Linked DNA regions of Homo sapiens: region 1 is linked to region 2. A link means that fine-mapping ties the variant in region 2 to the expression of a gene that starts in the linked region. Tissue or cell type: whole blood. Region 2 holds a variant in brackets; the other region holds the start of a gene. All regions are shown on one strand. Distances are between the middles of the regions.

What was found. PIP is the estimated chance that this variant, and not a neighbour inherited with it, causes the effect.
Region 1: BMP2K starts here. The variant in region 2 is fine-mapped to the expression of BMP2K in whole blood (TOPMed, PIP 0.98).

What each region holds. Positions count from the first base shown.
Region 1 is chr4:78,775,332-78,777,946 of GRCh38, reverse strand. BMP2K (BMP2 inducible kinase) reads right to left here and starts at 1,597. Exons shown (of 16, transcript NM_198892.2): 1 at 1,226-1,597. The coding sequence starts at 1,403. BMP2K-DT (BMP2K divergent transcript) reads left to right here and starts at 1,977. Exons shown (of 1, transcript NR_186689.1): 1 at 1,977-2,615. RefSeq lists silencers at 693-893, 1,255-1,924, 2,015-2,264 and enhancers at 468-1,098, 1,731-2,361.
Region 2 is chr4:79,133,574-79,136,337 of GRCh38, reverse strand. All of the region lies in intron 3 of LINC01088 (long intergenic non-protein coding RNA 1088), which reads right to left. Among named protein-coding and RNA genes, the nearest start is that of LINC01088, 160 kb to the right of the region's middle. The variant C/G (reference allele first, on the strand shown) is at 1,524.

The DNA.
Region 1 (2,615 bases), 360 kb after region 2:
CTCCCACCTCTCCAAGTTTCGGCTAAGATCATTATTCTGAGCAATGGTTCACGAAACAATGATATGTACACTTGAATAATTCACGATTTCTTTCTCTTTCAAATATTTTATACAAAAATCTTCAGGTTTTTTCCCTTGTGCTAATTTACTGTTGTGTATAGCATTTCAAAAAATACAAGCGGAATCTCAGTCTACTGTTTTCAAACCACATCAACGTCTAACGCTCGGAGAACTGAATCCACTCTTCGATTTTTTTTATCTTAACCATAGAACTTAAAAGGGCCATTTATCAACAAAAAGTATTTCTTTTAAAGTGTTTATTTTGTAGTATCATTTTGCAACTAAAAACTCAAAGGCCAATGAAGCATGCAGCACACAGGGCAAGTATTTTCTACAAGGCAATTATGCCAGAAATACAAAACTAAATTCTAAGTTCTTCTTTTAAAATGGAGTAAACTTTTTTTGTAAGTAGACTTCTACCTGCCGTCATAACCTGTTCCAGATCATGAAGGACCGACCACAAAACCTCGTTAAGTGAAAGTTAACCTGCTTTTATATCACCTTTTAAACTACTATCAAAGAGACATACTGGGAGGGCATGAATAGCACCTTGTCCAACAGAGAAGATTCTAAATAACAAAGATAAATGGGCTCCAAGTTTACCTGCTCCTCAGTGCAACCTACTAACTGAATTTAGAGCAAAGGATCACCTCCAACACGCACACATGCACACAAATACATTGTTTTTCAACAGATGACTGAGCTGCAGCAAAGCCCAGCTTGACACCAGGGGCTGCAGGGTCCTATGCCCTGCAGCGCGGGTGGAGGCTTAGATGAAAAGGCCAACGCATGACACCCGTCTGAGCCACAGCTGGCAGAACGGAGCTTCAACCCTGTTCGATCTGACCCTCTAATGAGTCACTGGCCCAATCGTAACACCAACCCACTTCCTAGCCCGTCTACTACCTATTTTCTCGCGTCAAAAAGCACAGAAAATGATTTAAACTAGGCATGAGAGAACTGTGCACCGGCCGGGGCAGCCAGCGGCAAGAAAAGCCAGCTTAAGAGAGAAAGCCCGAGCCACTCTTTAGGAGCCCCCGCTGGCCCGGCAGCAGAGGAAGAATGGGGTATAAGAGTCAGTCCGGAGGGCGAGGACCCGGAGAAGCCGCCGCCACACCCCAACCCTCCCTCACCTGCCTGTCCGAGCCTCCCCGGGCGCCCGTACCTTCGGCCAGCGACTCTTCCAGGGTGACCTGGTGGCGGCCGACCGCGAACACCCGGACCCCCACGGACGAGCCGCCGGAGCCGCAGCCGGCCCCGGCCCCGGCCCCGCCAGCCCCGCCACCCGCCGCTCCGCCGCCGCTGCCGCCCTCCGACTTGGGCATCCGAGAGAACTTCTTCATGGTCCCGCCGGCGAGCTGGAGGGCGCAGGGAGCGTGCAAGGGCAAGTCCCCGGCCCGGCGCGCAGCCGGGCGTCCGCGAGGGGTCGCCGCCCCTGGCCCGTCCGAGCGTGCTGCGGCCCGCCAAGCCTCACATTCCGCGCTCCCCAAGCGCACAGCCTGGGCCCCGCCGCCCGCTCCGCGGCTCCGCTGCAGCTGCCCGGCTCCCGCAGAGGGCGGTGGGGAGGGCGGGGACGGGGCGGGGCGCGAGGGGGCGGGTCCGAATCCAGGGGCGACGCCGCCGCCTCCGCCAGTGCCCCGGGCGTCCCGCCGCCTCACTAAGCGCCTGGAGCGCGAGCCGGGGTAGAGGAAGAGAGCGAAAGAGGCTGGGCGGCCGGCCCCTCCAGGGAGTGGGCTAGACGTCTCAGGCCACAAACCCGCAGGACCGCAGCCCGTCGCGCCGCCGCCGCCCCGGCCGAACCCGCGCCGCCCGCCACTCGTGGCCGTTGGCGGGGGGGGGGGGGGGGCGCTGCTGCCAACCGCTCACTGAGGCCGGGCGACCCGCGCAGGCGCGCTGCCCGCGCCGCCGGAAGTGACGGTTCCGGCTCTTGTCACGTGGAGGGGGACCAAGGGAGGTGATTGTGGGGGTTGGGGACTAGGGCAAAGTCGGGGGTCCCGGGTCCGGGGTTGCGCCGGGAGGGTACTGGCCAGGCCCGACTTCAAGCAGGGAGGTGGCCCGGGACTGGCTCCCGCGCTGGTCACGCACCGGGGTCCGTCATCTCGACCGGGAGTCGCTGTGCCACTCTAGGGGCTTAAAAATGCCGCCAACAACTTTACCCCTGCTGAGGAACTTCTCGCTTCGTTTCTTAGCCAGTTTTCCAGGCCTTCTCCCTTGAGAGTCTCCTTCCGCTCGCCCACCCTGAGCGTAGGAGGTGGGAGCAGGACGGAACTGGAGTGGATTCCAGTAACTGGACTTCTAAACCGGCTCGGTGTCGTCGCGCTCTGTAGCGGACGCTTGTGCTGGGAAGCGTTTTGCAGTTTATAAATTACTTAGGAGTACTTTAAACATCTCACGCCTGCTGTACCACAGCCATGTGGGGGTATTCAGAACAGGTATTAAGGTCGTTTTGCAGACCATTCATCACTCTTGGCTAAAAGAACTTAACGGAGTCGCCCAAGGTCACACAGCTGGCTCGTGGTAATTGGGGACCATTCTTTGATTCATAATTTTGTGCT
Region 2 (2,764 bases):
TAACATGGAAGTTAAACAACATGCTCCTGAATGACTTTTGAGTAAATAATTAAATTAAGGCAAAAACAAAAAAAAAATTCTTTGAAACTAATGAAAACAGACACAACATACCAGAATCTTTTGGACACAGCTAAAGCAGTCTTAAGAGAAAAGTTTATAGCACCAAACACCTATATCAAGAAGTTAGAAAGATCTCAAATTAACAACCTAATGGCGCACCTAGTGGAATTAGAAAAACAAAAGCAAACCAACCCCAAAGCTAGCAGAAGAAAAGAAAGAATCAAAATCAGAGCTGAACTGAATGAAATTGATACATGAAAATCCTCATAAAAGATCAACAGAACCTAAAGTTGGTTCTTCAAATGATTAAACAAGACTGATAGACTGCTAGCTAGATTAATAAAGAAAAAAAGGGAAAACCCAAATAAACCCAAACAGGAACAATGAAGGTGACATTACAACTGACCCCAAAGAAATACAAAAAGTCTTTAGAGACTATTATGAATGCCTCTATGCACACAAACTAGAAAACCCAGAAGAAATGGACATATTTTTGGAAACACATGGCTTCCCAAAATTGAACCAGGAAGAAATTAAAGTCCTGCACAAAATAATAGCAAGTTTCAAATGTGAATCTGTAATAAAAACCCTACCAACCAATAAAGGGCCTGTATCAGATGGATTCACAGTCAAATTCTACAAGATGTAAAAGAGCTAGTACCAATCCTACTGAAGTTATTCTTAAAAAAAAAAAGAAAAAAGAAAAAAAAGAAAAGAGGAGGAGGACTTCTCCCTAACTCATTCTATGAAGCCAGAATCATTCTGATACCAAAGACTGGCAGAGACAAAACAAAAAAAAGAAAACTTCAGGGCAATATCCCTGATGAACACAGACACAAAAATCCTCAACAAAATACTAGCAAACTAAATTCAACAGACATCAAAAAGTTAATTCATCATGATCAAGTATGCTTTATTCCAATGCAAGATTGGTTTAACACAAATAAATAATTAGTTTAATGTAAACAAATAAATAAATGAGTTTCACTACATAAACAAAATTTTATTAATAATCACATGATCATCTCAATGGATGCAGGAGAGGCCTCTGATAAAATTCAACATCTCTTCATGTTAAAAACACTCAACAAATTAAGCATTGAAAGAACATACCTCAAAATAATAAGAGGCATATATGACAAACCTGCAGCTAACATCATACTGAACAGGCAAAAGCTGGAAGCAGTCCCCCTGAGAACTGGAACAAAAAAAAATGCCTAATCTCACCACTGTTATTCAATGTAATACTGGAAGGCCTAGCCTGAGCAACCTGGCAAGAGAAGGAAAGAAAAAAGCATCCAGATAGGAAAAGAGGAAGTCAAACTATCTTTCTTCATGAACAATAGGCTTCTTTACCTAGAAAATCCTGAAGACTCTGCCAGAAGGCTTCTAGAACTCATAAATGACTTCAGTAAAGTTTCAAGATATAAATCAATGTACAAAAATTATTACATTTCTATATT[C/G]CAATAACATCCAAGGTCAGAGCCAAATCAAGTACACAATCCTACAAAAAACAGCCACAAAGGATAAAATACCTAGGACTACAGCTTACCAAGGAGGTGAAAGATCTCTACAATGAGAATTGCAAAACACTGCTCAAAGAAATCAGATGACACACAAAAAAATAGAAAAACATTCCATGCTCATAGATAGGAAGAATCAATATTGTTTAAATGGCCATACTGCCCAAAGCAACTGACAGATACAATGCTATTCCTATCAAACTTCCAATATTATTTTTTCACAGAACTAGAAAAATCTATTCTAAAATTCATATGAAATCAAAAAAGAGCCCAAATAGCCAAAGCAATCTAAGCAAGAAGAACAAACCTAAAGGCATCACACTACCCAACTTTAAACTGTACTATGAAGCTACAATAACCAAAATGACAAAAACAGCATGGTACTAATACAAAAAGAGACACATGTACCAATGGAACAGAATAGAGAACCCAGAAATAAAGCCAAATACCTACAACCACCTGATCTTTGACAAAGTTGACAATAGCAAACAATGGGGAAAATACTCCCTATTGTGCTGGGAGTCAATAAATGGTGCTGAGATAACTGATCTGCCATATGCAGAACATTGAAACTAAATCCCTTTCTTTCACTTCAGGCCAATATATCTGACTACTACGGGAAGCCCTGAAAAAAAAAGAGAACACATATTTTAAAATATCAGTCACATTAAAAAGATCTTTCCTATTAAGTCCTTTGAAAGCCTTCAAATGTATTAGAAGAAATCAATGCTACCTCTCAATATTCGACCCTGGGCATGCAAAGAGCATGGTGGTCAGCCAGTTCAGCATACAGACCTGGGTCCTGGCCTTGTAGCTCCAGGTGTGCAAACCTGAAAAACGCTGCTCAGAATTTGCTAGAGGTAAAAGAGACATTTTGATTCTAATATACCTAGCCGACACTGCACTTCAAGATTTCAAGGCCAAGTATCTCAGTTGTGATATTGTGCTACAGTTTTGTAAGATAATATCATTGAGGACTCTGAGTAAAAGGTATAAGGGAATTTCTCTATAATTTCTTACAACTGTATGTGAATCGATAATTACCTCAAAATAAATAGTTTAATTAAAAATGTGAAGTGGTTGAAGCATTCAAGGTTTATTCACCCATTCATTCATTGAATATTTCAGAAATATTTATTGATTATCCATACTATTATAGATGCCAGGGATAGAGAGGTCAG